Homo sapiens: one gene and its partners. The protein of the gene in region 1 purifies or fractionates together with the protein of each later gene. This does not show direct contact. Each region holds a gene or a part of one and is shown in the gene's direction. Other genes may lie near its edges. The genes, in order: SCFD1, SNAP29, NAPA, RINT1, SEC22B, BNIP1 and DKKL1.

Region 1 (3,944 bases):
TTACGAAAGGCATTTTTTTTTTTTAAGTTCTAGGGTGCGTGTGCACAACGTGCAGGTTTGTTACATGTGTATAAATGTGCCATGTTGGTGTGCTGCGCCCATTAACTCATCGTTTACGTTAGGTATATCTCCTAATGCTTTCTCTCCCCGCTTCCCTTACCCCACTACAGGTCCCGGTGTGTGATGTTCCCCTTCCTGTGTCCAAGTGTTCTCATTGTTCATTTCCCACCTATGAGTGAGAACATGCAGTGTTTGGTTTTTTGTTCTTGCTATAGTTTGCTGGGAATGATGGTTTCCAGCTTCATCTATGTCCCTACAAATGACATGAACTCATCCTTTTTTATGGCTGCATAGTATTCCATGGTGTATATGTGCCACATTTTCTTAATCCAGTCTATCATTGATGGACATTTGGGTTGGTTCCAAGTCTTTGCTGTTGTGAATAGTGCCGCAATAAACATACCTGTGCATGTGTCTTTATAGCAGCATGATTTATAATCCTTTGGGTATATACCCAGTAATGGGATGGCTGGGTCAAATGGTATTTCTAGTTCTACATCCTTGAGGAATCGCCACACTGTCTTCCCCAATGGTTGAACTAGTTTACAGTCCCACCAACAGTGTAAAAGTGTTCCTATTTCTCCACATCCTCTCCAGCACCTGTTGTTCCCTGACTTTTTAATGATTGCCATTCTAACTGGTGTGAGATGTATCTCATTGTGGTTTTGATTTGCATTTCTCTGATGGCCAGTGATGATGAGCACTTTTTCATGTGTCTGTTGGCTGCATAAATGTCTTCTTTTTAGAAGTATCTGTTCATATCCTTCGCCCACTTTTTGATGGGGTTGCTTTTTTCTTGTAAAGTTGAGTTCTTTGTAGATTCTGGATATTAGCCCTTTGTCAGATGAGTAGATTGCAAAAATTTTCTCCCATTCTTTAGGTTGCCTGTTCACTCTGATGGTAGTTTCTTTTGCTGTGCAGAAGCTCCTTAGTTTAGTTAGATCCCATTTGTCAATTTTGGCTTTTGTTGCCATTGCTTTTGGTGTTTTAGACATGAAGTCCTTGCCCATGTCTATGTCCTGAATGGTATTGCCTAGGTTTTCTTCTAGGGTTTTTATGGTTTTAGGTCTAACATTTAAGTCTTTAATCCATCTTGAATTAATTTTTGTATAGGGTGTAAGGAAGGGATCCAGTTTCAGCTTTCTACATATGGCTAGCCAGTTTTCCCAGCACCATTTATTAAATAGGGAACCCATTCCCCATTTCTTGTTTTTGTCAGGTTTGTCAAAGATCAGATGGTTGTAGATGTGTGGTATTATATCTGAGGGCTCTGTTCTGTTCCACTGGTCTATATCTCTGTTTTGGTACCAGTACCATGCTGTTTTGGTTACTGTAGCCTTGTAGTATAGTTTGAAGTCAGGTAGTGTGATGCCTCCAGCTTTGTTCTTTTTGCTTAGGATTGACTTGGCAATGCAGGCTCTTTTTTGGTTCCATATGAACTTTAAAGTAGTTTTTTCCAATTCTGTGAAGAAAGTCATTGGTAGCTTGATGGGGATGGCATTGAATCTATAAATTACCTTGGGCAGTATGGCCATTTTCAGGATAATTGATTCTTCCTATCCATGGGCATGGAATGTTCTTCCATTTGTTTGTGTCCTCTTTTACTTCGTTGAGCAGTGGTTTGTAGTTCTCCTTGAAGAGGTCCTTCACATCCCTTGTAAGTTGGATTCCTAGGTATTTTATTCTCTTTGAAGCAATTGTGAATGGGAGTTCACTCATGATTTGGCTCTCTGTTTGTCTATTATTGATGTTTGGGAATGCTTGTGATTTTTGCACATTGATTTTTGTATCCTGAGACTTTGCTGAAGTTGCTTATCTGCTTAAGGAGATTTTGGGCTGAGATAATGGGGTTTTCTAGATATACAATCATGTCATCTGCAAACAGGGACAATTTGACTTCCTCTTTTCCTAATTGAATACCCTGTATTTCTTTCTCCTGCCTGATTGCCCTGGCCAGAACTTCCAACACTATGTTGAATAGGAGAGGTGAGAGAGGGCATCCCTGTCTTGTGCCAGTTTTCAAAGGGAATGCTTCCAGTTTTTGCCCATTCAGTATGATATTGGCTGTGGGCTTGTCATAAATAGCTCTTATTATTTTGAGATACGTCCCATCAATACCTAATTCATTGAGAGTTTTTAGCATGAAGGGCTGTTGAATTTTGTCAAAGACAAAAGGCATTTTCTTAAGTTCATTTTTGGATTCCTCATTCCAAGTGCATAAAAATCCAACCGATTTTTATGTTGATCTTACGTTTCACAGCCTTGCTGAGTTTATTAGTTCCAATTGTTTTTAATGGATTTTTAGAAGTTTCTATATACAAGATCATGTTATCTATTAATAGAGATAGTTTTGCTTCTTTTCTATCTTCTGCAACTGCCCTGGCTAGAACCTTCAGTACATTGTTGAATAGAAGAGGCAAGAGCAGACATCCTTGTCTTCTTTCTCATCATACGGGCAAAGCATCTAGTCTTTGACCATTATATATTTTATTACATTATTCATAGATGCCCTTTAGATCCATTAAATTTTTAGTAGCTACTAAGCTCCCCAGTTTATTGTCCTGAGAGGATTTTTAAATCCCTTTTAGTTTTTTTGTCCTGAATAATCCTAATCTTTTCCCTACCATTCAGCCCTATTAAGAAGGAACTGAGCTAGGTCTATGACAGCCTTCCTCACATCATTAGAAACCTGTGTCAGTACAGTCTCGTAGTATGAAACTAAACATGCGACTATGCCTACATGAGACTGGCAATACAGAATTAACTAACATGGCCCTTGGTTTATACTAGTCCACAACATAAGGGGCAAGTGCCAGAAAATACTGCTGTAATTCTGATTTATTTAGTAATGTTGTTAATCTAACTCACAATGTAAATGCTATTTGGTATAACTTTGGTATAATTGGTAAAAAATAATTTGACTGATTTTATCAAAACATTTGATAATACTAATATTGATGAATTGGGAACTTGACTTAAAACCACAAGGTATTCTCTTGATGGAAGGTGATTGGTTAGAGAAAGAACTACACTGAGTTAATTTTACATTGAATCAATATACTGGTACATTTTATAAAGTTCGATTTTTTTTTCTTTTTTTTTTTTTGAGACAGAGTCTCATTCTCTCACCCAGGCTGGAGTGCAGTGGCGCAGTCTTGGCTCACTGCAACCTCTGCCTCCCGAGTTCAATCAATCAGTTCTCCTGCCTTAGCCTCCTGGGTAGCTGGGATTACAGGCATGCGCCACCACACCTGGCTAATTTTTGTATTTTTAGTAGAGATGGGGTTTCACCATGCTGGCCAGGCTGGTCTCGAACTCCTGACCTTGTGATCCACTTGCCTCGGCCTCCCAAAGTGCTGAGATTACAGGCATGAGCCACTGCGCCCAGCCCATAAAGTTCAATTTTTAACTGACAGAGTAAGTAAAGGGGTCATCAAGCTTGTACATGATTAAGAACAAGTTTGCACTGGAATGTTTGGTAAACTACAGTGTTTCTTTAAAATTACACCTACACTTCATTGGATGGCTAAAAACGATTAGAAAAGAATGATGATGAGTAATTTGGTTAAGAAAGCTTGGTCCAGGGTGGGGACTGTACAAGTCAGGATTAATCTCAACTGGGCTACTGTACCCCTGTGCTTATCTCCAAGAATACCAGGATCCATGGTGCTGATGTTTAGCCAAACCTGAATGAAGTATTAACTAGTGATGAATTCTGGGCCTGGGCTAGAGACTACGATAAACCAGGGGGCAACCTTGGGCTGGCTTGCCAGCATTGTTTAATAGAAAATGTAAAGATTGATTTTACATTTTTCACCTGGTTTCTGTCATGTTCCCTTGGTTTCTGCAGTTGAGCCTGGTCATGCTGGTCATGCAGCCCAATT
Region 2 (4,428 bases), on another chromosome or scaffold:
TCTCTGTTCATGTATCCCTCATTGATCCACCTCCCTGTGGTTTTTTTTTTTTTTTTTTGAGACAGATTCTCGCTCTGTCACCAGACTGGAGTGCAGTGGCACCAACTTGGCTCACTACAGCCTCCGCCTCCTGGGTTCAAGTGATTCTCCTGCCTCAGCCTCCTGAGTAGCTGGGACTAAGGCGTGCACTACCACACCCAGCTAATTTTGGTATTAATAGAGTTGGGGTTTTGCCATGTTGGCCAGGATGGTCTCGATCTCTTGACCTCGTGATCCACCACCTCGGCCTCCCAAAGTCCTGGGATTATAGGCGTGAGCCACTGCACCTAGCCCACCTCCCTGTGTTTAACTGTTGGTTTTTTATTTTTGTTTTGTTTGAGACAAAGTCTTACTCTGTCACCCAGGCTGGAGTGCGATGGTGTGATCTCGGCTCACTGCAACCTCCACCTCCCCAGTTCAAATGATTCTCCTGCCTCAACCTCCCAAGTAGCTGGGATTAGAGGCACCTGCTACAACACCTGGCTAATTTTTTTGTTTTTGTTTTTGTTTTTGTTTTTTTGGTGTTTTTTGTTTTTGAGACGGAGTCTTGCTCTGTCTCCCAGGCTAGAGTTCAGTGGCGCGATCTCAGCTCACTGCTACCTCTGCCTCCCAGGTCAAGCGATTCTCCTGCCTCAACCTCCTGAGTAGCTGGGCTTACAGGCACCCGCCGCCATGCCCAGCTAATTTTTGTATTTTTAGTAGAGACGGGGTTTCACTGTGTTGGTCCGGCTGGTCTTGAACTCCTGACCTCATGATCCACCTGCCTTGGCCTCCCAAAGTGTTGGGATTACAGGCGTGAGCGACCACACCTGGCCTCTGATTTTTGTATTTTTAGTAGAGACAGGTTTCGCCATGTTGGGCAGGCTGGTCTCAAACGCCTGACCTTAGGTGATCTGCCCACCTCAGCCTCCCAAAGTGCTGGGATTACAGATGTGAGCCACTGCGCCCGGTCCTAACCTTGTTAGGGAGGTTTTGCCTGTAGTTCTTACATCTCATACCTACTGGATTCCTATGTTCCATTCTAAATGGGAAGTCTTGGCTTAGATTTGAGAGGATTGCCTGAGGTTTTAGGGCCCTGGTGAATGGGTCACATGATTGAGGATCTCAAGCCCAAGGAATTCAACTAACAACTATTTAAGGAGACATCTTTGTAAACTGAGAACAAATGAAGTAGGGAATCAATGATTCAAAGTAGGGCATTGTGGCAGAGGATAAACTTGAATCTAGCTTTTAAGGCTGAGGTTTACACAAGAGGAGTGAGAATGAGGGATGTTCTTAGGGAAGACAGGAAAATATGCAAATGCACTGGCCCAGCAACAGAGCTCCTGGGTCCAGAGGAGGGACATGATAGACTGGGTGTGTTAGAGGACAGGGGATGGAGGAGGTAGCTTAGGAGCCCTTGGAGGTCATAGGGAAAGTTCTGGTCTCATAGCGCAGGAGAGGCAAAAATGTAATAGTGGTGAGTTTGATATAGATTGTGATGACATGCCCCGTGCTGCCCCCAAAGGTCTTTCTATGCAGTGGGGACAGTGAGAGCTGAGGCAGAGTGGCACTTCAGGCATATCAGGCTTGGCCAGGCCAGGCATTGCTGTGAGAAGTACAGTGTGGTCATGACTGGGCAGGTGACAGGTGCTCTTGTCAGTGAGACAACATGTTGGAATTTTCCAGGATTGGGTCAGTTCTCAATTATGAGAAGCCCTGGGAGTCAGGGATGACCTACATCTCCACCACACCCAGTGTTCTCCAAGCTGTCTTTGTTTTTGTGTTTTGTTTTGGGGGAGGTTTTTTGAGATGGGGGTCTCACTCTGTCAACCAGGCTAGAGTGCCGTGGTGCAATCTTGGCTCACTGCAGCCTCTGCCTCCAGGTGCAAGTGATCCTCCTGCCACAGCCTCCCAAGTAGCCAAGACTACAGGTGCACGCCACCACACTCGACTAATTTTTGGTATTTTTGGTGGAGATGGGCTTTCGCCATGTTACCCAGGCTAGTCTCGAATTCCTGAGCTCAGATGATCTGCACACCTTGGCCTCCCAGTGCTGGATTACAGGCTCCAAGCTGTCTTTGAATCACTCTAATCACTCTTTCATTCCCTTTGGTGTTGGGATGGGAACAGAGGAGTATGAGCTCTTCCAACCCTCAGTGCACAGTGTGGCTTCCAGCAAATTCCAGCATACCCTGCTAATCACCCAACTTAGGTGCCTGGTTACCCCAGCACTGTGAAACATGCCAACACATGACAGATTTATGTCAAAGATGAGGACTTTACAAATTATATTAGGTTGGGAAGATTATAATTCAGTCCCAGCTTGGCAGGAAAATGGCTTAGTTAAGTCACCTCTAGCAAAGAGAGCTGCCCTTCTCCTACTGTGAAACCTGGCAAGGATTGTTTCTCACAAAGGCTCAGGCCACAGGCTATGACCACAAAAGAACAGAGGAGAAGTAGTGGGAGCAGGGCGGTTTCCCCAGGCCGACCTGGTAGGCGCTTTGTAGAACTACAGGGAGACTTGTAAGCCACTCGTCTCTTTCCCTGTTTAGTAAGCATGATTTCTTCTTTTTTTTTTCCTAAGGTTTAATTTTTATGAAGAGAGATTCCAATCACATGGTTCAAAATTTCAAAACATACAAAAGGGTGTAGTCTTCTCCCACTTCCCTCCCTATCATCCCTCTGCCCCTAAGGCAGCCAGGCACTTTCCCTCCTTCAGTGTTTTGGGGAGATAATGCCGTGGATAAAAATGGGTTTTTTTTTTTAAGTGAAGTATTGTATACATTCTGGTCTGCATGTGCTTAATAGAATGGAGTTTGTTCCACACTAGTATGTAATGAGCTGGGCTTTCTTTTTGGCTGTGTTGTATTCCATTGAACAAATGACTTCTATTTATGCAGCCTGTCCCCTAATGATGAGCATTGAGGTTGTTTACACCTTTTGGTGAGTCTATTTGCATCCTACTTGGACATGGTTTTTGTACACCTTTTCATCACTCCAGTGGAGGAGACTCACCTGCCCAGGACACTCTGCTTCCCCTCTTGTAGCTGAACTTAACTCCACTGAGGTTTTCTGGGGCCCGAGATCTCGGTTCAGGGGAGTCCAGCAACAAACATTAGACCAGGGTTGGAACGGCTGGCACAGTAACATCAATGGAAAGGGACAGAGTTTGAGAGTTCAAACGTGATGCACTCAGCAGCCACCGCCAGCACATCCTCCACACCGTCTCGTGCAGGGGCCCACCCATCTCTGTGTCTTTCCAGCACACAACAGTCACCCACACTGGGCATTCCATTCAGAGGTGGGAGAGAGGAGGACACCCCTCCTGGCCCAGGAGCAGAGGCCATCAAGGTGTCCCCGGAACTTAGAGTAGATACATTGCCAAAAGGTGATATCCTCATTCTCAGGGATTCTGGTCTTGGAGCAGCCCACTCCAAATGAGGGGCCGTACAGACCAAAGTCACCCCTCTGAGGCAGCGTGTGGTGATACTGATGCAGCCAGAGTTCTTAGCAAAAGTTGATGGATGGGGACAAGCAGCTGCTAGATTAAGTAATTCCTCAAATTTGTAAATGTCAGCAGTGGAAGAGGAGCAGTCTCTTACCCATCTCTTGCTCAACTTTCTACCCCCACGCTTCTCAGCACAATGTCCTTAAGCGTTATTGGCGCTCCCAAAATAGTTGCCAAATGAATAAGTGACCTGGGGAAGGAAAGGAAGGAGGGAGGGAACAGAAGATTGCCTGAAAAAGGAGGAGAGAGTTGGGTGGAAAGAATGCATTGAGCTGTGTGCCTTGGTTGCAATGCCTGTCCTGTGACCAGAAAATGCATCCCAACACATGTCAGGCTGTGTCTAGCAGGTGGGAGGGAGTCTGGTGGAGAAATGGCATTGGACCACATACTCACCGCTAGGTCTGTTCGGGATTTATTTTTAATTAATTTTTGGTAAACTATCAATGATTGAATTTGACCATTGATGGCCAGGTGTGGTGGCTCACACCTGTAATCCTAGCACTTGGGGAGGCTGAGGCAGGTGGATCCCTTGAACCCAGGAGTTCAAGATCAGCCTGGGGAATGTGGTAAAACCCTGGCTCTACAAAAAATACAAAAATTACCTGGGCATGGCGGTGCATGCCTGTAGTTCCAGCTACTCAGAAGGCTGAGGTAGGAGGATCTCTTGAACCAGGGAGGTCAAGGCTGCAGTGAGCTGAGGTCATGCCACTGTATTCCAGCCTGGGTGACAAAGTGAGACCCTGTCTCAAAAAAAAAAAAGAATTAGACCATTGATCCCAGGCCAATTTGCTGGCTTGTTGGCTGTAACAGGATGCCTTCTGAGGATGGGCTGGTTGTTCGAGCTTCTGGCTTCTCCTTCCTGGGCACATCCACTCACAGCTGCCACATTGTCCCAAGGA
Region 3 (4,428 bases), on another chromosome or scaffold:
ATCACACCACTGCACTCCAGCGTAGGCGACAAAACAAGACCCTGTCTCAAAACAAAAAAAGAAATTAGGTTACTGGAGAGTGTGTGTCCGGCACTTCCCCTTGCCCAGCCTTCCCGCAAGTGTCACATTTGATAAGCATCTTGCAGCAGGCCACAGGGATAGGCAGAGCCCACAGGAGGCTCAGCACCTGCCCTGCCCCCAGGGCGCGTTGCCAACGACAGATGCAGACCAGATGGGCAGCTGCCAACTGGAGCCAGAGTGAAGGGTCCCACCCAGGCCGGGGCTCCTGTCAGTGCTTTCTCTCTCTCTCTTTTTTTTTTTTTTTTTTTTTTTGAGACAGAGTTTCTCTCTCATCTAGGCTGGAGTTCAGTGGCGTGATCTCCACTCACTGCAACCTCTGCCTCCCAGGTTCAAGCGATTCTCGTGCCCTAGCCTCTCGAGTAGCTGGGATTACAGGCGTGTGCTACCATGCCTGGCTAATTTTTGTATTTTCAGTAGAGATGTGGTTTCACCATGTTGGCCAGGCTGGTCTCAGACTCCTGACCTCAAGTGATCCACCTGCCTTGGCCTCCCAAAGTGCTGGGATTGCAGGCATGAGCCACCGTGCCTGGCCAGCTCCTTTTTGCCTCTCCGCTTGCCCTGTCTGTCTCAGCCCTCCAACCCCAGGCAGGGACACGAGCCCTACCCCTTGCGTTCAGGGCAGTGCTGCAGGGATGACTGTGATTAGAACAATAATAGCAGCTGCCATTTATTAGGCCAGACACTGCAGGGTGGTTTAATCCACAGCCCTGTGAGGTTGGCATTATTGTCATCCCCGTTCCTTAGTGGAGGAGAGGGGCTCAGACAAGTGACATGATTTGCCCAGGGACATGTGGCTACAAGCAGGAGTCACTGAGACCCGAAACAAGGTCTGGCTGAGCCCAGGGCCTTGCCCTTTCCTACTGCCCTCAGCAAGGGGGTGGCGTTGGACCAGCCCCTGGTGCAGAGCAGTTAGGCAAGCGCCTGGACACTGGGTGGAGGCGGATGGAAGGTGCGAGGCCCCTTGGAACCTGAGGCCTCCCTGGGGAGCTCTGGGTGTGCCTGGGGGAGGCTGACAGATAGGTGTTGGCCTGGGGGCAGAGCTGGTACTCTTGGGCAGAGGTCTCAAGCCCTCCCTCCCATCCTGGTTTCTCCAGAGCCCTTTGCCAAGTGGCTCTGGACTGGTCCTTCCGCCTCTCTGGCTGTTATCAGAGGCTTCCTAAGGGCCAGGGCCTTGGCCAAGTGCTCGTGCTCACATTCTCTCTGGTGTCACACCATCTGTGCCCTCGTGGATGGGATGGAATTAGGCTAAGGCCCTGGAGTGGCTTGTCCAACATCACCCGCTCAGCCCAGCACGCATAGCCAGGCCTCTAGTGCTGGGGCCCTCCCTTCTCACTCCTGTGTTCCCCCACCTCTCGATCTTCTTCACACCTCAGGTCTTCTTCATACCTCCTCACAGGCGTGGCTGAGGGGTGGGAACTTGAAGGGTCATAGGTCAGCAGGCAGGCACGCAGGAGGTCATGAGTCGCAGGCAGCCCCTTCCTGTGTCCCCTCCAGGGCCGATTCACGATTGCGGCCAAGCACCACATCTCCATTGCTGAGATCTATGAGACAGAGTTGGTGGACATCGAGAAGGTGAGTGGCAGCAGGGCCCTGCATGGGCTGGCAGCCAGGACCAGTGCTGCTCTCTCTTCTTCCCACCAGGGGAGTCCTCTGGTGTCTGAGTGCCGAGAAGGGGGCATGGGGCGCCGGCAGAGCTTGGAGAATGGGGTCTGGCTGTGTCCCAGGCAGGCAGGGCGGAGGGTGTGGAAGCTTCACGGAGGCCTCCTCTCCCTTCCCTGCCCTCCCCTGGAACCCATCCCCCGTGTCTCCCCAGGCCATTGCCCACTACGAGCAGTCTGCAGACTACTACAAAGGCGAGGAGTCCAACAGGTAGCCCCCTTCCTGCCTGCCCCAGCCCCGCAGGGACCGCCACCACTTCCCCTCACTACTCCTCCCCACACAGCTCAGCCAACAAGTGTCTGCTGAAGGTGGCTGGTTACGCTGCGCTGCTGGAGCAGTATCAGAAGGCCATTGACATCTACGAACAGGTGGGGACAGGTGGGGATGGCGGCTTCCACCCTGCCCCCTCTCAGGGCCTGTGCCTCCTCCTAAGCCCCGGCACCTTGTTCTGGAACCACCCCTCCCCCGGCTCACCCTCTGCCTCTCCCCCGACATCCCTTGCCATGTCATCCCCCCACCCTGTCTTCAGCCTGGCTGAATGTTCTCCACCTACGACTCCATGCCGTGCCAGCACCGTCTCTCTCCCTGGCTGTGCCCCTCCCACACCCCTCGCAGAGCTTCCTGGAGGGGCCCAGAGTGAGGCTGGCTAAAGAACCCAGAGGGAGGGAATGGGAAGAAGTGCCAAGAGGCCCAGGGTGGCCGTGGGCACCCCACCCCATGGCCCGATGGTCCTCATCCACAGTGGGAGGGAGGGAGTGTCACATGGGGTCCCCCCAGCGTGCACGGAGCCCTGGGTGATGGCCGAGAAAAAGGCAGGCAGCTGGCCCCCTGGGAGAGAGGGGCGGGCGCCGCCTCTCATGTTCCCACCGCCTGCCGCCGCTCTGCCCACCGCCATGCCAGCCTCCCGTTGGTCCTGACAGCCAGGCTGCCTCCTTCCCACTGTCTCAGGCTCTCAGAAGGCCCACGAACACCTGGCTACAGCCTCCACCCCCACCCAGCCACCATCACACCCTGATCTTGGTCGCTCACGCACTGGCCGCTGACCTCTCCAAGCTGGTCCCTGGCTCCCTGCCCTTGGGGTCCTGGGTTAACAGGGCCTCACCTCGGGACATGAACCAGCTCCCAGCTGGCCCCCCAGTGCCTGGCAGTGGCTCTGGCCCTCTGGCTGCTTGCCCTGAGCTCACCAGTGCCACTTCTCCATGGCTACAGGTGGGGACCAATGCCATGGACAGCCCCCTCCTCAAGTACAGCGCCAAAGACTACTTCTTCAAGGCGGCCCTCTGCCACTTCTGCATCGACATGCTCAACGCCAAGGTAGCACACCCCACGCCCGCAGGACCACCGCACCAGGCCACCATGTGCTTATCTCCAGGCCAGGTCCCGTTGCCCCCGAAGAGGGACGTGCTCCTCCCTCACGTCTGGCCCCTGCCAGCCAGCCTTTGGATGAGAAGTGTGGTTCTCACAGCTGTGTTTCTGTGCTGGCATCACCTGCCCACCCAGCCCTGGAGGCTTTTGCGGGTCCAGCTCCTGCCTCACTTAGTGCTCTTTCCTTCATGGGTGCACTTTTTGAATCCTCACTGCACCCCATTAAAGTCAGCACCATTGTCACCGCGTCTTATGGGTGAAGATGGTGAGGCTGGGACGAGAGTCCCTTGTTTGAGGCCACATGACTAGGGACCTGCAGCCCCAGTGTTCCAGATCTTTGTGACTCCTGCTGTCGTGGCTTTAGCTGTAGCTCACACATGCCCACCTATTTTCAGGACACTTGGCAAAAGAGGGGCCAAAGAGGGCAGTGGGAGGGGGCGTGGCCAGCGGGAAGGAGCTGGAGGGTTGGCGCTAGATTTTGCTTGGCCGGAGTTTTTTTACCATTGCCTGGCAGAAGCACGGAGTCCAGGATTTCCTGGTGTCCCTGGCTCACGGCCTGGGGTGGTGGCCCCACACACCCCACACACACACACCCCACAGAGCCCTGCCCTGCTGTGGGCACCGGTGGTGGGCAAAAGCTTGGGCTTTGTCAGACCAGGTTCCCATTCCCACCCCATGTCTCACCGTGCCCTGGGCAGGTCACTGCCCCTCTCTGGATCTGTTTCCTCACTTTGAAAAGGGGGCTCACCGTCATTTGACCCTCTCAGGGTCCTCAAGAAGCACCAGCCCCAGGCCTGGCATGGAGGATGTGCTCATTTGTCCCCTGCCCCAGCTGAGCCAGGTGGGAGGAGGCAGTGGGTGCCTATCTGGGGAACCTTCCCCCTCCACCCACCTCTCCCTGCAGCCATCTCTGCAGCCAGGCTGGTGCTGAGCTCAGCTACGGGAAGGTACTGACAGACACAGAGCCAGGTGACACCTGAGGCTGGGGGAGGGGTGCAAGAGCTGACTCAATATCACCCGACATCCCCAAGTCCCCTCAGCTGCTAGGCCAGTAGCTCTGAGGACCCTCTTGTTACTAACTCATCTTCTCCCTTCCCTGCTGCCCAGCTGGCTGTCCAAAAGTATGAGGAGCTGTTCCCAGCTTTCTCTGATTCCCGGGAATGCAAGTTGATGAAAGTAAGTGCTGGGTGCTCCGGCCTCCCCCTTCCCGAACCTCAGACGGGGGTGGCTGGGGCTCCAGGTGGGACAATCGCCAAGACTTGTCCAGTAGTTCTCAGAGGGTGTCTTTGTTTTGTTTTGTTTTGTTTTGTTTTGTTTGGCCAT
Region 4 (4,428 bases), on another chromosome or scaffold:
TTTAGGAGGCTGAGGCAGGAGAATCACTTGACCCCGGGAGGTGGAGGTTGCAGTGAGCTGAGATCACGCCACTGCACTCCAGCCTGGGTGACAGAACGAAACTCTGTCTCAAAAAAATAAAATAAGTTTTCTCTAGCTGGATCCTCTGCTGAGCCTATGGAGGCAGACCTCTAGATGCTTACTGGAGCCAGTGAGTTAAGTCCCTTTCTCTACATGTATGTGTATATGTATGTATGCATATATTTTTTATTTTATTTTTATTTTTTTGTTTCACTTATTGTTTTCAACACAAAGGCATACTTCTTCCTGCTATTTGTGTGTATATAAAACAGCATGTTATGTTTGGATTGATTAGTACAGGATGAAGAAATCAAACCTTTTTTTGAAGGTTTTGATGGATGATTTTCAGTTCTGTTACAAAAAATGTGTATTTTGAAGGGAACGAACTAATAAAAAAGGTTACATACAGCCTGGGCAACATAGTGAGACCTTATTTCTATTTAAAGAAAAAAAAAAAAGAAAAGCCAGGTGTAGTGGTGCATATGTGTAGTCCCAACTACTGGGGAGGTTGAGGTGGGAGGATTGGTTGAGCCCAGGAAGTCCAGGCTGCAGTGAGCTATGATGGTACCACTGCACTCCAGCCTGGGCAACAGCGTGAGATCCCCTCTCAAAAAAAAAATTATGAAAATTTTATCTGATTGCTGCTGTTCTTTCTTTCTTTCTTTTTTAAAATTATGGTCAGGTACTTACAATTTCATCAGAAATTCCTAAAAGAATTCGAAGTGCCTTAAAAAATGCAGAAGAATCAAAGCAATTTCTTAATCAGTTTCTGGAGCAGGAAACTCATCTCTTCAGCGCCATTAACAGCCATTTGCTGACTGCGCAACCTTGGATGGACGATCTTGGAACCATGATTAGCCAGATTGAAGAGATCGAACGTCATCTTGCTTACCTTAAATGGATTTCACAAATTGAAGAACTAAGGTAAAATGGGCCTCTTTGTTCTCACAATTACTATTTTCCTTTGAGGCTTCTGTCTTAGAGAGTACATGTGTGCCATTAAATAATTGAGTTAATTAAAGATTATAATAATATAATTTTACCAGTTGTTGTGAAAATAGCATTATGATAATGATTCTTTTCCTTTATTGTGAGTGAACATAAGCTTTTCAGGGAGCTTAATTAGCATTTGAAAGAAGGTAATGTAAGTACGTTAAACTTTTAAGTTTTTTTTTTTTGAGATGGAGTCTCGCTCTGTCGCCCAGCTGGAGTGCAGTGGTGCCATCTCGGCTCACTGCAAGCTACACCTCCCGGGTTCATGCCATTCTCCTGCCTCAGCCTCCCGAGTAGCTGGGACTACAGGCGCCCGCCACCATGCCTGGCTAATTTTTTTTTTTGGTATTTTTAGTAGAGACGGGGTTTCACCATGTTAGCCAGGATGGTCTCGATCTCTTGACCTCACTGTCCGCCAGCCTCGGCCGCTGGAAGTGCTGGGATTACAGGCATGAGCTACCGCGTCCGGCCAAACTTTTAAGTCTTACAGTTGGATTATGAACACATGATAAAAACTATTCTTTGTAATGCCAAATTAATAAAACACAAAGTTTGGTAATAGTTATTCTTATTTAATTTTTAGAACTGGTCAGTTAATGAAATGGATTGCTTTTGTATAATTTGAATATTTTTCAGTGGGAATCATAAGAGCTACACAGTATTCTTGGATGAATAACAAGAGTTCTGCTACCTCTGGGTAGGAAAAACAAAAAAGGAAGTAAGGCTTGACCTTAGTTCTTTTTGAGTTGAATACCTATCACTGGTAGTTAATTGTATCTAGCTTTGCCTTTCAGACAACCCAAAGTAACATTTCCACCTAGATTAGTAGATGATAAGGTCCCCACTATCCTTGCATTGTTTTAACTAGTACTTGCTGCAGAGCTGTCAGCAACCATTAATTTTGCCTGGAAAACCTGAGGGAGAAAAGTCTTCTGGGAGTCTTAATGTCCTGTTTCAAATGTATCATAGTTAATAAACCTGATATTACTTTTGTTATGGATATGTTTTATGTATTTCTTTTTCTTGCATATATTTCCCAAAATTTTAAAGAATTTTACATATCAATATAATATAGAAATCTTTGTTTTTAGGCCAGGTGCAGTGGCTCACACCTGTAATCCCAGCACTTTGGGAGGCCGAGGCGGGCAGATCACGAGGTCAGGAGTTTGAGACCAGCCTGACCAACATGGTGAAACCCCGTCTCTACTAAAAATACAAAAAAAAAAAAGAAATTAGCCAGGCATGGTGGCGCGTGCCTGTAATCCCAGCTACTTGGGAGGCTGAGGCAGGGGAATTGCTTGGACTCGGGAGGCAGAGGTTGCAGTGAGCTGAGGTTGTGCCATTGCACTGCAGCCTAGGCAGCAAGAGCGAAACTCCGTCTCAAAAAAAAAACAAAAAAAACAAAAAAACTTTGTTTTGCATGTATGAGGAGTTTTACATATAAAGTGGTTTAGAACATCTCATTCTTGTTTAGATAAATTATTTGCAGTGAAGGAATTTTAAACCTTGCTTTATTTTACTGCATTTCTCCTTGTCCCTCAGAAAGGAAATATCAGTAAGGGGCAATGTTAATAACTTTATTAAGTAAAATACGTTATTTGAAAACCTCACTCTTGTAGTAGCCAAAGTAATAGATTAACTAAATTAGGTCCATGGTTATTGATAAACTTTTCTTTTTTCTTCTTTTTTTTAACATTTATTTTATTTATTTTAATTTTCTTTTTATTTTTTTTTGAGTTGGAATCTTCCTCTGTTGCCCAGGCTGGAGTGCAGTGGCACAATCTCAGCTCACTGCAACCTCCACCTCCCGGGTTCAAGCGATTCTCCTGCCTTGGCCTCCCGAGTAGCTAGGACTACAGGTGTATGCCACCACGCCCAGCTAATTTTTGTATTTTTAGTAGAGATAGGGTTTCACTATGTTGGCTAGGCTGGTCTTGAACTCCTGACCTCAAGTCATCTGCCTGCCTTGGCCTCCCAAAGTGCTGGGATTACAGGTGTGAGCCACTGCACCTGGCCTTGATAAACTCTTCAGATATCTGAATTGTTTATAAGGGAAATATGCCGAGGGATTTATATTAGAAATAGGGATCAAATTCATAAGCAGGTAGAGCACAGTTATTTTTCTGTCTTTAATAATGTGTTATTTCCCTGAGGTCTTTTATGATAATCTCTCCATTTCCAGCTTTCCTTTAGAGCTTCTGGGATTTTCTTCATCTCTAAATTTTTTTATAATGGCCTATTTTTATTCTGATGTACATTGTCTTTTTTTCAAGTAGTTTCTTCTTGCTAGAATTAGCATCCTTACATTAGCTCTGTTTCTTGGATACTATAGTATAGCACTATCACTCTGAGTGAACCTTGTTTCTCTAGCTTTTCCTATGTTGTAAATGTCATTCATACTTTAGTGTTGTGAGGAAATCTATTTCATTCCTTCCTTAAAAGCAGTACTCCTGCCGGGCATGGTGGCTCATGCCGTAGTCCTAGCACTTTGAGAGGCTGAGGTGGGCAGATCGCTTGAGCTCTGAATTCTGTGACCAGTCTGGGCAACATGGCAAAACCCCATCTCTGTTTAAAAAAAAAAAAATCAGCCAGGCTTGGTGGTGAGCACCCATAGTCCCAGCTACTCGGGAGGCTGAGGTAGGAGGATCGCTTGAGCCCCGAGAGGTTAAGATTGCAATGAGCCGTGATTGTACCACTGCACTGCAGCCTAGGTGACAGAGTGAGACTCTTTTAAAAAAAAAAAAAAGGCAGTACTCATATTCTGTTTGTACATTTGAAATTCTTCTGTAATATTTGTATATATATATATATATTTTTTTTTTTTTGAGATGGAGTCTTACTCTGTTGCTGAGGCTGGAGTGCAGCGGCACCCTGTCAGCTCACTGCAACCTCTGTCTTCTGGGTTCAAGCAATTCTCCTGCCTCAGCCTCCTGAGTAGCTGGGATTACAGGTGCCCATGACCACGCCTGGCTAGTTTTTATATTTTTAGTAGAGACGGGAAGGGTTTCACCAAGTTGGCCAGGCTGGTCTCGAACTCCTGACCTCCGGTGATCCACCCATGTTGGCCTCCCAAAGAGGCCACCACGCCTGGCCTCTTTTTCTTTGAGACGGAGTCTCACTCTGTTGCCAGGCTAGAGTGCAGTGGCATGATCTTGGCTCACTGCAACCTCCGCCTCCCGGGTTCAAGCAGTTCTCCTGCCTCAGCCTCCCGAGTAGCTGGGATTACAGGTGCCCACCACCATGCCTGGCTAGTTTTTATATTTTTAGTAGAGATGGGGGATGGGGAAGGGGGGGCGGGGGGCGTTTCACCAAGTTGGCCAGGCTGGTCTCAAACTCCTGACCTCCGGAGATCCACCCATGTTGGCCTCCCAAAGT
Region 5 (4,428 bases), on another chromosome or scaffold:
ATGTATACAATGTGTAATCAAATCAGAGTAATTAGCATATTCATCACCTCAAACATTTATCATTTCTTTGTGTTGTGAACATTCAAAATCTTGTAGCTTTTTGAAAATACGTGGTAAGTTATAGCTAGCCATATTCACCCTACAGTTCTGCAGAACACCAGAACTCATTCTTCCTATCCAGTTGTAATTTTTTATCCATTAACTTGCCTCTGCCCATCCTCCCCTTCTCTCTACCTTTCCCTACTTCTAATACCCACAATTCTACTCTCTACTTCCATGAGCTCAAAAATTTTTTTTGGCTCCTACATATGAATGAGAACATGCCATATTTATCTTTCTGTGCATGACTGATTTTATTTAACTTAATGTCCTCCAGATTTATCCATGTTGCTGCTAATGATAGAAATTCATTCTTTTTTATGGCTGAATAGTATTCCATGGTGTGTGTGTGTGTGTGTGTGTGTGTGTGTGTGTAAAAAACACTTTTAAAATCCATTATTCTCTTGATGGACATTTCTCTTGATTATCTATCCATAGATATTATGAATGGTGCTGCCGTAAACATGGGGGTACAGATAAGTTTTTAACATAATGAGTTTTTTTCCTTTGGAGAAATACCCAGCAGTGGGATTGCTAGATTGTATGGTAGTTCTGTTTTTAGTTTTTTGAGAAACCTCCATACTGTTTTCTATAGTGTATAAAAGTTCTCTTTTCTCTTCATCCTCAACAGCATTTATTGACTTTTGTCTTTTTAATAGACATTTTAACTGGGGTGAAATAATATGTCGTTGTGGTTTTTATTTACATTTACCTGAAGATTAGTGATGTTGAGCATTTTTTCATATACTTGGCCATTCGCATGTCTTTTGAGAAATGTCAATTCTGTTCCTTGCCTACTTTTTAATTGAATTATTTTTGGTTTTGCTGTTGAGTTGTTTGAGTTCCTCGTATGTTCTGGATATTAGTTCCTCATCAGATGAATGAAACTAGATCCCTATCTCATCATATACAAAAATCAACTTAAAGTAGATTAAAGACTTAAGCATAAGACCCTAAACTATAAAACTACTAGAAGAAAACATAGGGGAAATGTTTCAGGACATGAACCTGGGCGAAGACTTTATGGCAAAGACTTCAAAGCACAGGCAACAGAAAAGAAAGTAGACAAATGGGACTGTATTAAACTAAAAGCTTCTGCACAGCAAAGGAAACAACACAGTGAAGAGACAACTTGCACAATGGGAGAAAATATTTGCAAACTCCTACTTAAACTAAAGAACCTCTGATTTTATCTGATATATACATTGGCCTTCTGAATATGTTTTGCTTGTTATATATACATATTCCATATATAAATATATATATTTGCATGTGTGTGTATGTATACTATGGCTAAAAAGAAGTTGGAAAACCACTTAGTAGCCTAACATTTTTCTAAGAATTTCTCAGATGTGTAATCATACAGCCCCTTCCAGAGTGCATGGGCGCTCATCATCACAAAAGAAAGTCAGTTCCATTGTTGATAAGTTTCCAGTTGATTACAGAGTTCTCCTGGACTGTAAATTAAGGAGTCTTATTAGTCTTGTACCCAGTAAACATTATGTCATTAACCTTACATTTCTATCCACAGAAATTTCCAGTTACAGTGTTTTCCTTTGTGGCTGGAAAGAGTTTAAATATGTGTATGCTAGTTTACCATATAGAATCAAAGGGTGGATGGAGTCACAACTCTGAATTTTTCAAGAAAAAGTCTTAAGTATTAAGCAAAAAACAACCCCATTTAAAAAATGGACAAAAGACATGAGCAGATATTTCTCAAAACATACTAGAGGCTAGCAAACTAATGAAAAAATGCACATCACTAATTATTGGAGAAATGCAAATCAAAACCACAATAAGATACCATCTCACAACAGTCACAGGGCTATTATTAAAAAGTCAAAAAACAACAGATGCTGATGAGGCTGTGGAGAAAAAGGAATTGCTTATACACTGTTCGTGGGAATGTAAATTCAGCCACTGTGGAAAGCAGTTTAGAGATTTTTCAAAGAACTTAAAACAGAACTACCATTAGACCCAGCAAACCCATTAATGGGTTTATATCCAAAAGGAAACAAATCTTTCTACCAAAAATCATGCACTTGCATATTCATTGCAGCACTATTCACAATAGCAAAGATATCAACCTAGGTACATGTTAGTGGTGGATTGGATAAAGAAAATGTAGTATATATACAGTATGGAATACTATGCAGTCATAAAAAGAAATGAAATCATGTCCTTTGCAGCAACATGGATGGAGCTGGAAGTCATTACCTAAGTGAATTAATGCAGGAACAGAAAACTAAATACTGTATATTCTCATTTATAAGTTTATAAGCTAAACATTGGGCACTCATGGACATAAATATACTGAGGACTTACTAGAAGAGGAGGGAAGGAGGGGGCAGGGGTTGAAAAACTATTAGGTAGTATGCTTAGTACTTGGGTGACGGGATTGTTTGTACCCCAAACCTCGGCATTATGCAATATACCCAGGTAACAAACCCGCACATATACATCCTCAAGCTAAAATAAAAGTTTAAAATGTTAGTTGAAGAATTGTGTAATGGGCTGGGTCCAGTGGCTTACACCTGTAATCTCAGCACTTTGGGAGACTGAATTGGGTGGATCGATTGAGGTCACGAGTTTCAGACCAGCCTGGCCAAAATGGTGAAACCCCATCTCTACTAAAAATACAAAAATTAGCTGGGTGTGGTGGTGGGTGTCTGTAATCCCAGCTATTTGTGAAGCTGAGGTGTGAGAATCACCTGAACCTGGGAGGTGGAGATTGCTGTAACTGAGATCATGCCACTGCATTCCAGCCTGGGTAATCTGGGTGATGGAAAGAGCCCTGTCTCCAAAAAAAAAAAAAAAAAAAAAAAAGAGAATCTAATGGATGAAAAATTATAATAAATATGTCTAAATACTCCTTTTAGAATATACGGCTAATAGGCTGGGTGCAGTGGCTCACGCCTGTAATCCCAGCACTTTGGGAGGCTGAGGCGGGCGGATCACGAGGTCAAGATATCAAGACCATCCTGGCCAACCAACGTGGTGAAACCCCGTCTCTACTAAAAATACAAAAATTAGCTGGGCATAGTGGCGCACGCCTGTAGTCCCAGCTGCTCGGGAGGCTGAGGCAGGAGAATGGCTTGAACCCGGGAGGCGGAGGTTGCAGTGAGCCGAGATAATGCCACTGCACTCCAGCCCAGGGGACAGAGCGAGACTCCGTCTCAAAAAAAAAAAGAAAAAAAAAAGAATATACATCTAATAATGGGAAGATGTTTGCTTTCTGATTCCAAGGATTTGCGGTTTTAAATTGACTCTCGTTTAGCCAGCCTCAAAGTATTTAGGCTAGATTTTTTAAAAAGTTTGCATGGTACAGAGATTCTGCTTTAAACTGTTGTCAGTGCTATTACTTTACAGATAACTTTGTCTTGCTTTTTATGTCTCACCAGCTACATTATTGAGCAGGGGGTGTGTTATTTGGTTTTATGTGAAGCTGCCTTCCCTAAGAAGTTGGCTTTTGCCTACCTAGAAGATTTGCACTCAGAATTTGATGAACAGCATGGAAAGAAGGTGCCCACTGTGTCCCGACCCTATTCCTTTATTGAATTTGGTAAGTTTTTGCCCCTCACTTCTCTCTATCAAGGGAGCAAACAATATGGAGAAGCTATTTGTTACACTGATATAATATTTATACATTTTTTCTGATGTTTACTTGCTGAAGTTTTAGCTTCTGCATCCTTTTCCATTCCACTTCTTTTTGTCTTTTTGAGTGACTAAGGCTTTGTTCTGAAAAGTAATTTTCTCTAGTCTTTTGATCTTTCCCCCATAGAAATTGTTGCCTTTTGCCCTTTCTGTTATTTGGTTTGATTCTTCTTTAGAGTCACATGTGACAGGAACTGTGCCTAAAGATCTACTTGATTGGCATATAATGGCTGAGTTCTTCTTTACCCCAGTCCACAGACTCACACTCACAATAAGGCTCATTTTATGGAGATCAGAATTGGGAAATCAGAAAGAATGATGTTTTGTTTCTTTTAGTAGAATAAGATCCTCTAATTAAAAAAACAAAACATAACAAAGAAATAGAAGATACCTGGTACTCATGGTATTGGGGTATAATATTTACTACATTCAGGAATAGTGAGCATAGGTGTCTGTATTTGTGCAAGAATTATAGAAAGACTAATTACTAATCAGACCTGGTAAAGTATCTGATGGTAAGGGATCAAAGGAAATGTCCTAAGTACAGTAAGTACAGGGAGTGAGAACAAGTAGGATCAGGCTATATCGCTGAAATTTTTAGTTAAAAGAGAAATTGGTTTTACTGGCTTAGAATTTTTGAAGTGTTTCAAGTTTGCTAGATAAATGGGTCATCTT
Region 6 (4,285 bases), on another chromosome or scaffold:
GGGACTCTTTGGGGAAAAAGCAGAAGCAACCCCATAACTACAATACCATGATCACCCCTAGAAATTATAATTTTGGACCACTGTTTTTTCAGTGCACCAAATAGGCAGAAGCAAAAGGAAAGCAAGCAGGTGACCCCAAGGTCACTCCTTGAGTTTGCAGCTTACCTGAACATCTGGGCTCGGAACCAGCCAGGGGCTTCCTCTCAGCGTGTGCTGTGGGAGAGGCCTTGGAGAGAGAGGGAGCAAGGCGACAACTTGGCCTCTGAGCCCAGGGCTTTTATGCTCTGGTGTGGCGACAGCATACCCCCCGCTAACAGTGGGAAGGAAACACAAATGCTGGTGGCTTCTGGGGTGTTGAGAGGGTCCCGGTGTTCTTGGGGCCCATTTTGTACAAGCGATAACTATTGAAGAAAAGAGAAGAATACAGTTCTTAACCCTTTCCTTATGCCTCACAAATTCAGCTTGATTTAAAAGCCTACTAGGACCATAATTTTAAAACAAAAAGCTTATTAGGAATATGGTGTCTGGAATTTGCTCCACAATTGCAGGAGTAGTTGCAGTTGGGGGGAGGGGGAGCAGGATTTCAGAGGTTGGTGGTTCTTGGTTATGGGTGGTGGACACATGGCATTTCATGATATTATGCTGTCTGCTCTGTGATGGTTCAAAATTCTCCGTAATAATAAAGTTTAAAAAGAAAGGCCTATTAGATTTTTACTTAGCAAGATCTCAGGGTTTTGAAATCGCAGCAGGCAGGCGTGGAGAAAGCAGGCGGAGAGGGATTCCTGTTCTGTGAGTGTTTGTTTTTCTCCTTTTATCTGTCATTTTCAAAACGCTGCTGTGTTTCCTCTGATAATTTATCCTATTTACTTATTAGCTTTTAATTTTTAAAAAGGTAACACATACAGCATAGAGAAGGATAAGAAAACTCTAGCCCAGGACTGCCATAGAAACGCAACAGCAGCCACGTATGTAACTTTAAATTTTCCAGTAGGCACATGTTAAAAAGTAAAAAGAAACATAAGAAATTAATTTTAGTAAGATGTTTATTTAACCCATTATGTAAAATATTATAATTTCAATGTAAAACTAATATTAAAAACTATTGAGATATTTTACATTCCTTTTTCTTAGATTAAGTCTTTGAAACATCGTGTGGATTTTGGCCAGGCGCGGTGGCTCATGCCGGTAATCCCAGCACTTTGGGAGGCCAAGGCGGGCAGATCACTTGAGGTCAGGAGTTCGAGACCAGCCTGACCAACATGTTGAAACCCTGTCTCTACTAAAAATACAAAAAGAAAATTAGCTGGGCGTGGTGGTGCATGCCTGTAGTCCCAGCTACTGGGGAGGCTGAGGCAGGAGAATCATTTGAACCTGGGAGGTGGAGGTTGTGATGAGCCAAGATCACGCCACTGCACTCCAGCCTGGGTGACAGAGTGAGACTGCATCTCAAAAAAAAAAAGAAAAGAAACATTGTGTGGGTTTGACACTTACATCTCCTGACATCTCCATTTGCATTAGCCACGTTTTTCTATGCACAGCAGCCTCGCATGTCTAGGGGCTGCCATATTGGTCAGCACAGCTCTGGAGAGTACAAAAGGGACACAAAAAAGATCACTCTCTGTTCTGACCTCCAGCTGACCCCTACCTGCCAGCCCTCTGGTCCACTTCCCAGAGGCAACCTCTGTAACCAGTGTCTTAAAAAATATCTTGTGATCCTCCAAGCTTTTGTAACTTAAGCAAATGAAATACCATTTATCTCCCTGTTTCTTACCTAAATGGAAACATTTCACAGGCGTTCCTTTATACTTTCCCTTTTCACTTAATGTGTTCTATTCAATGGCTGTTCTGATGATGCCTTGCTATGTTTTGTGGGAGAACCTCGCCAGGTACACCTTCTACCCTCAGCGTCAGGCCCAGATACCCATATTCAGAAATACATCTGACTCTGGGGACAGTGATTCCTTAAGGGACGTGGGCCTCTTCTTAGGTGTCACCTCCTTAAAGCTACAGCCAGTATCCCTGGCCTGAGGGACTGGTATGTGTGAGGGCTTACGGCAGAGCCCGGGACACCCTTGCCCTTTTGAGATCCTGCAAAGTGCCGGTCTGGCCAGCAGATGTCCTGGAGGCCGCACCTCATAGGTGGAAGGTTCTGGTGCATTTGGCTGCTGCCCCAACACAGACCTCACAGTGCCTGCCCACGATCCCTGGGTTGATTTTGTGGCTGGTGGTTTCCCTGAGCAGCGTCCATCTGCTTCAGAGAGCTGAGGAGGTGGCTGGGTGAGCAAGCCTCTTCTGCCCTTCTCCCTGGTGACGCTCATGTTCAAGGACTCCCAGACAAACCCCCCCTCACTCTCTGGAGCTGATGGGACCTGGGGAGGAGCCTTTCCTTGTCAGCTCCTTGGCTGGTCTCCACATGCTTTGATTCCAGCTCAGAGGAACTCACTTGAGAATGCTGGTTTTTATCAGCACCCCAGCCAGCAGAGTGAGGTCTTTGGATCTTGAGCTGCAGTCTCTGAGTTGGGCCTCCTTCCTCTTTTGTTTCAGTCACTTCTTCACGAACGATCCTGGATGCAAATGAAGAATTTAAGTCCATGTCGGGCACCATCCAGCTGGGCCGGAAGCTTATCACAAAATACAATCGCCGGGAGCTGACGGACAAGCTTCTCATCTTCCTTGCGCTAGCCCTGTTTCTTGCTACGGTCCTCTATATTGTGAAAAAGCGGCTCTTTCCATTTTTGTGAGATCCCAAAGGTGCCAGTTCTGGCCCTTTCAGCTCCTGTTTCAGGATCTGTCCTGGTTCCTGAGCTCTAGGCTGCTAAGCTGAGCCACACACCCCTCCGTTTGCACCAGTTGCCTGCAGGTTGGATGGAACACAGTGCCCCACTTTTCTGCAAGTAGCTGGCTTGTAAAGGGTGAACAGAGCCATGGGAGGAAGGTCTGGCATTGGGATGCCGCCCTGGGGACATACGAACCGCCTCCTTCCACCATTGTGCACTATGGGAGGCCGCTGCTGCGTGGAGCACTTAAAGTCCAGCCTCCAGGACCGGATGCCCCTCCTGTCTCCCGCTCCCATCGTGCCCTTAAATGCCAGATCTGGTGGAGGGAAGAGAGAAGAGGTAGGAAGAAAGGTGATGAAAACTCCTGGTCATTCCTTGAATAAACTTGATTTTATTTAATAGAATAAAATGTATTTGATTTTGTAAGATAGCCCTCTGGGAATGTGTGTTCCTCTTTTCTTTTTTCTTTTTTTTTGAGATGGAGACTTGCTCTATCATCCAGGCAGGAGTGCAATGGCGCAATCTTGGCTCACTGCAGCCTCTGCCTCCTGGGTTCAAAAGATTCTCTTGCCTCAGCCTCCCAAGTAGCTAGGATTACAGGCACACACCACCATACCCAGCTAATTTTTGTATTTTTTTAGTAGAGATGGGGTTTCTCCATGTTGGCCAGGCTGCTGTCGAACACCTGACCTCAGGTGATCCACCCATCTTGGCCTCCCAAAGTGCTGGGATTACAGGTGTGAGCCACCATGCCCAGCCCTCTTTTCTTGATGTCCAGATTTTTAGGACATGAACCTAGATTATTTATTTATTCATTCATTCAACAACGAATTAGCATTGTTATTTTCTTTCTGTCCCCACCCAACAACAAGGAACTATTAAACAGCTGCCACACACAGGGTGTTATAGACGCTGCTGAACATGACAAATACATTGGTGAACCAGACATGGTTCCTCCCTCAAGGAGGAACAGAAGGAGACACGGAAATAAAATCTCACAGACTATCAGGAAGGAGGGTCCAACAGCCCCTGTTCAACCAGGTGTGGTGGCTGATACCTCTAATCCCAGCATTTTGGGAGGCTGAGGCAGGATGATCACTTGAGCCCAGGAGTTCAAGACCAGCTAGACAACATAGCAAGACCCTGTCTGTATTTAAAAAAAAAAAACAAAAAAACAGAAACAGAACAGAAAACAGCCCTTGTTGGAAGTGGCTCACACCAACATCTGAAAAGGCTGCAATGCCATTCTCTACCACAGCAGCCTGGCCAGGCCTGGGGGTGTGCAGTGATTCGGGCTGGCACATGCCTTTCTCTCTGATGTCCAGAGCTAAGTATAACCAAGGAGGGAGAAGCTAGTGAGAAGCTGAGACTGTGTGAGCCTGAGTTCTGTCCAGGCCAGAGGGAGAGGGCCCAGGCTAGGCCAGTCCTAGAGGTGCTGTGTCTTTTGTGCTGCAGGCCTGGCTGACCTCAAGCTTGAAATCCCAGCCTCCCCCACTATTTATAGCCCC
Region 7 (4,428 bases), on another chromosome or scaffold:
AGCTCAGATGAAAATGCCCCATGGCTTTGGAAGGCCAATGAATGTGCCAAGGAAAAAGGTGCCATGGAGGATCCTCTGGAAGACCTCGCCAATGAAATTTCAGATTAGGACACCCCACTGGATTTGAAGGCCAAAGAACGTGCCAAGGAAAAAGTTCCCATGGAGGATACCCTGGTGGAAGACCTTGGAAACGAAAGCTCAGATAAGGATGCCTCACTGGACTTGAAGGTTGACAAACGCATGAAAGAAAAAGTTCCCACAGAGGATACCCTGGTGAAAGACCTTGCCAATGAAAGCTCAGATGAGGACGCTCTACTGGATTGAAGGCTGATGAATTCACCAAGGAAAAGTTCCCACGGAGGATACCCTGGTGGAAGACCTTGCCAACAAAAGCTCAGATGGGGATGTTTTGCTAAATTTAAAGGCTGACAAATGAGCCAAGGAAAAAGTTCCCATGGAGGATACCCTGGTGGAAGACCTCACCAACGAAAGCTCACATGAGGATGCTCCACTGGATCTGAATGCCGACAAATGTGCCAAGGAAAAAGTTCCCATAGATAATCCAGTGAAAGAATTTGCCAACAACATCAAGGAAAAGGAGGCCCCATGTAATGTGAAGGCACCCTAGGGAGTCCAGGTAAATGATTTCAAGGATGACCTGGCGGGGATGGTGATCAGTGAAAAGTCCCCAGAAGCAGCCCTATCTCTTCACAGGGCAAAATGAGATGCCAAGAAAAAAGATTGCTTCGCCATTCTTGTAGCAGAGCTTCCTGAAGAGATGTCCTCAGGGCAAGTGCTGGCCGTTGTCACCGTGAAAGGCATCAAGAAAAATGGTGGCTCTGAGGACAGCTTTTCTAAAACCAGTAATGACAAAGACTCTTCCTGTAGTGGAGACACTCAAGCTTCTGGAGCAGATATGGAAGAGTCCAATCATGCAGATGACCATCAGCATATGCCAACAAGTACTCTCCCAGCACCTGCAGAAAAAACAATAGAGACAAAGCCTGAAAAGGCAGAAGAAATGTAACCCAGTGAGTTCAAGGAGGATGAGGATGCTGAAGAGCCTGACCTGACCTGTTGTGACCTTTGTTTTTTATGCTAGAAGTCCCTACAGATTTTTTGAACACCTGGAAGGGCCGGGTCACAAGACCTCACCCTGGCCCAGCAACCATCTGGACCGTGAGAGTTTTGGGGATTTTGCTACTCTCTCTGGACTTTTACATTCTCTTAATTTTTTAAAAAATATTCTTTCTTTAACCTGTTTTAAGATGCAAGCTGTCATTGCGTCATCATAGTTACATTTTATTACTCAAATAATTTTTCAATTGTTTTACTAGTTTTTTTTGGATCTTTGTCCACTGGTTTTAGAGTTTTTGTAATTTTGATAAATGATCTTTTATGCTTTGTATCATTTTCTTAATGACTTACCTTAGTTTTTAACAAATCCATGGTACAGTAAGTTATATTAAGACATAGTATTTTTATGTTTTTTTAAATTATACTTTGGGTTCTGGGGTACATGTGCAGACATGCAGTTTTGTTGCATAGGTGCATGTACCATGGTGGTTTGCTGTACCCATCAGCCCGTCACCTGCATTGGGTGTTTCTCCTGATGCTATCCCTCCCCTGACCCCCCACCCCCCACCGACAGGTCCTGGTGTGTGATGTTTCCCTTCCTGTGTCCATGTGTTCTCATTGTTCAGCTCCCACTTGAGTGATAACATGCAGTATTTTGTTTTCTACTCTTGTGTTGGTTTGCTGAGAATGATGGTTTCCAGCTTCATCCATGTCCCTGCAAAGGACATTAACTCATCCTTTTCTGTGGCCGAATAGTATTCCATGGTGTATATGTGCCATGTTTTCTTTATCTAGTCTATCACTGATGGACAATTGGGTTGGTTCCAATTCTTTGCTATTGTGAATAGTGCCATAATAAACATGCATGTGCCTGTGTCTTTATGGTAAAAAAAAATAGTATAATAAATATCCCTATAGTCTCTTTTCCATAAACCAAAATTTCTTAAGGTTGGCATCATTGGCATGTGGGGCTGGATAATCTTTATTGTGGGAGCTGCCCTGTGCACTGTAGGATATTTGATAACATCCCTGGGCTCTATCCACTAGAGAGAAGTTGCCTCCTGCCAGGCACAGTGGCTCATACCCGTAGTCCCAGCACTTTGGGAGGCAGAGACGGGCGGATCATGAGGTCAGGAGTTCGAGACCAGCCTGGCTAACGTAGCGAAACCCCGTCTACTAAAAATACAAAATATGGGGCCAGGCACAGTGGCTCACACCTGTAATCCCAGCACTTTGGGAGACCGAGGCAGGCAGATCATGAGATCAGGATATCAAGACCATCCTGGCTAATGCGGTGAAATCCCGTCTCTAGTAAAAATACAAAAAAATTAGCCAGGCATGGTGGCAGGCGCCTGTAGTCCCAGCTACTCAGAAGGCTGAGGCAGGAGAATGGCGTGAACCCGGGAGGTGGAGCTTGCAGTGAGCCGAGATCGTGCCACTGCACTCCAGCCTGGGCGACAGAGCGAGACTCCGTCTCAAAAAAAAAAAAAAAATACAAAGTATGGCCAGGAGTGGTGGCTTACACCTATAATCCCAGCACTTTGGGAGGCCGAGGCGGGCAGATCACCTGAGGTCAGGAGTTCGAGACCACCCTGACCAACATGGAGAAACCCCGTCTCTACTAAAAATACAAAATTAGCCGGGCATGGTGGCACATGTCTGTAATCCCAGCTACTCAGGAGGCTGAAGCAGGAAAATCGTTTGAACCCAGAAGGTGGAGGTCGCGGTGAGCGAAGATAGCACCATTGCACTACAGCCTGGGCAACAAGAGCGAAACTCCATCTCAAAAAATAAATAAATAAATAGGCTGGGCATGGTGGCTCACGCCTGTAATCCCAGCACTTTGGGAGGCCAAGGCAGGTGGATCACCTGAGGTCAGGAGGTTGAGACCAACCTGGCCAACATGGTGAAACCCCGTCTCTACTAAAAATGCAAAAATTAGCTGGCATGGTGCCATGCCCCTGTAATCCCAGCTACTCTGGAGGCTGTGGTGGGAGAATCGCTTGAACCCAGGAGGCAGAGGCTGCAGTGAGCCGAGATTGTGCCACTGCACTCCAGCCTGGGCTACAGAGTGAGACTCCATCTCAAAAAAAAAAAAAAAAGAACACAGTCATGTTGGATTAGGGCCCAACCTAATGACCTCATCTTCACCAATTATATCTTCAATGACCCTAGTTCCAAATAAGGCCACATTCTGAGGTATTACAGGTTAGAATTTCAAAATATGAATTTGGGGAGGAAACAATATGGTTGTTTGTTCGTTTGTTTTTTAAGCCTGGGTCTTGCTCTGTTGCCCAGGCTAGAGTGCAATGGCACAATCTTGACTCACTGCAGCCTCTGCCTCCCAGGTTCAAGTGATTCTCCTGCCTTAGCCTCCCAAGTAGCTGGGATTACATGAGCGCGCCAGCACGCCCAGCTAATTTTCATATTTTTAGTAGAGACAGGATTTTGTCATGCTGTCCAGGATGGTCTCAAACTCCTGACCTCAAGTGATCTGCCCACCTCAGCCTCGCAAAGTGCTGGATTACACACATGAGCCACCGCGTCCAGCCAGGAGGAAACAATTTAACACATAACAATCTCCTGCGCGGCTTCTCAGACCTCATCTTACTAAAAGGCAGACTGATTCAGCAGGTCTGAGTGGGGTGGGACCTATTAATTTGCATACCTAACAACAGCAGCCCACCCTTTGAATTGCAAGGACCAAACAGACACTCAGTCCATATTCAAACTTTCTCCCTCAACTCAAAGCTGTCCTTGAAAGCTTTATTTTTTTTTTTTCCCTTGAGATGGAGTCTCGCTCTGTCACCCAGGCTGGAGTGCAGTGGTGCGATCTCGGCTCACTGCAAGCTCCGCCTCCTGGGTTCATGCCAATCTCCTGCCTCAGCCTCCCGAGTAGCTGGGACTACAGGCGCCCGCAACCATGCCCGGCTAAATTTTTTTGTATTTTTAGTAGAGACAGGGTTTCACCGTGTTAGCCAGGATGGTCTCGATCTCCTGACCTCGTGATCCGCCAGCCTCGGCCTCCCACAGTGCTGGGATTACAGGCATGAGCCACTGCACCTGGCCCCTTGAAAGCTTTTGATTCAGGATCAATGAAGGATCACACATTGCATTTATGGTCATGAGTCTTCGGTAAACCCAAGAGCTTTTAGTCCTAAAGTGCTTTGTACATTTCAAACTGCTATCCTCTAAACCTCAGAGAGGATTTAATCCTAAAGTGCTCTAGAATCCCAACAGGCATTATAATCCCTGAAGTGCTCTATTACCTCCCTTTTGAAAGCCCCCAAACAAATTTTCCAATCCCAAAGCATTCTGTAAACCTCAGAGTATTTTTAATCCTTAAGTGTA

What was found.
Region 2: the proteins of SCFD1 (region 1) and SNAP29 purify together in Homo sapiens (affinity purification with mass spectrometry; 2 studies listed by BioGRID and IntAct, with this or other methods). This does not show direct contact.
Region 3: the proteins of SCFD1 (region 1) and NAPA purify together in Homo sapiens (affinity purification with mass spectrometry; 3 studies listed by BioGRID and IntAct, with this or other methods). This does not show direct contact.
Region 4: the proteins of SCFD1 (region 1) and RINT1 purify together in Homo sapiens (affinity purification with mass spectrometry; 2 studies listed by BioGRID and IntAct, with this or other methods). This does not show direct contact.
Region 5: the proteins of SCFD1 (region 1) and SEC22B purify together in Homo sapiens (affinity purification with mass spectrometry; 3 studies listed by BioGRID and IntAct, with this or other methods). This does not show direct contact.
Region 6: the proteins of SCFD1 (region 1) and BNIP1 purify together in Homo sapiens (affinity purification with mass spectrometry; 2 studies listed by BioGRID and IntAct, with this or other methods). This does not show direct contact.
Region 7: the proteins of SCFD1 (region 1) and DKKL1 purify together in Homo sapiens (affinity purification with western blotting, with the first as the bait; one study listed by BioGRID). This does not show direct contact.

The regions. Positions count from the first base shown.
Region 1 is NC_000014.9:30,729,858-30,733,801, forward strand, and holds part of SCFD1 (sec1 family domain-containing protein 1), read left to right. Parts: intron 1-3,944. UniProt on the Homo sapiens protein: Plays a role in SNARE-pin assembly and Golgi-to-ER retrograde transport via its interaction with COG4. Involved in vesicular transport between the endoplasmic reticulum and the Golgi.
Region 2 is NC_000022.11:20,861,079-20,865,506, forward strand, and holds part of SNAP29 (synaptosomal-associated protein 29), read left to right. Parts: intron 1-4,428. UniProt on the Homo sapiens protein: SNAREs, soluble N-ethylmaleimide-sensitive factor-attachment protein receptors, are essential proteins for fusion of cellular membranes.
Region 3 is NC_000019.10:47,490,641-47,495,068, reverse strand, and holds part of NAPA (alpha-soluble NSF attachment protein), read left to right. Parts: exon of another isoform or gene 1-41; intron 42-1,467; exon of another isoform or gene 1,468-1,575; coding exon 1,576-1,653; intron 1,654-1,894; coding exon 1,895-1,950; intron 1,951-2,023; coding exon 2,024-2,108; intron 2,109-2,949; coding exon 2,950-3,054; intron 3,055-4,212; coding exon 4,213-4,281; intron 4,282-4,428. UniProt on the Homo sapiens protein: Required for vesicular transport between the endoplasmic reticulum and the Golgi apparatus. Together with GNA12 promotes CDH5 localization to plasma membrane.
Region 4 is NC_000007.14:105,541,666-105,546,093, forward strand, and holds part of RINT1 (RAD50-interacting protein 1), read left to right. Parts: intron 1-61; exon of another isoform or gene 62-190; intron 191-742; coding exon 743-984; intron 985-4,428. UniProt on the Homo sapiens protein: Involved in regulation of membrane traffic between the Golgi and the endoplasmic reticulum (ER); the function is proposed to depend on its association in the NRZ complex which is believed to play a role in SNARE assembly at the ER.
Region 5 is NC_000001.11:120,162,443-120,166,870, reverse strand, and holds part of SEC22B (vesicle-trafficking protein SEC22b), read left to right. Parts: intron 1-3,500; coding exon 3,501-3,661; intron 3,662-4,428. UniProt on the Homo sapiens protein: SNARE involved in targeting and fusion of ER-derived transport vesicles with the Golgi complex as well as Golgi-derived retrograde transport vesicles with the ER.
Region 6 is NC_000005.10:173,161,181-173,165,465, forward strand, and holds the end of BNIP1 (vesicle transport protein SEC20), read left to right. Parts: intron 1-892; coding exon of another isoform or gene 893-965; intron 966-1,131; coding exon of another isoform or gene 1,132-1,144; exon of another isoform or gene 1,145-1,180; intron 1,181-2,544; coding exon 2,545-2,741; 3' UTR 2,742-3,207; downstream 3,208-4,285. UniProt on the Homo sapiens protein: As part of a SNARE complex may be involved in endoplasmic reticulum membranes fusion and be required for the maintenance of endoplasmic reticulum organization. Also plays a role in apoptosis.
Region 7 is NC_000019.10:49,370,140-49,374,567, forward strand, and holds part of DKKL1 (dickkopf-like protein 1 isoform 1 precursor), read left to right. Parts: exon of another isoform or gene 1-1,004; intron 1,005-4,428. UniProt on the Homo sapiens protein: Involved in fertilization by facilitating sperm penetration of the zona pellucida. May promote spermatocyte apoptosis, thereby limiting sperm production. In adults, may reduce testosterone synthesis in Leydig cells.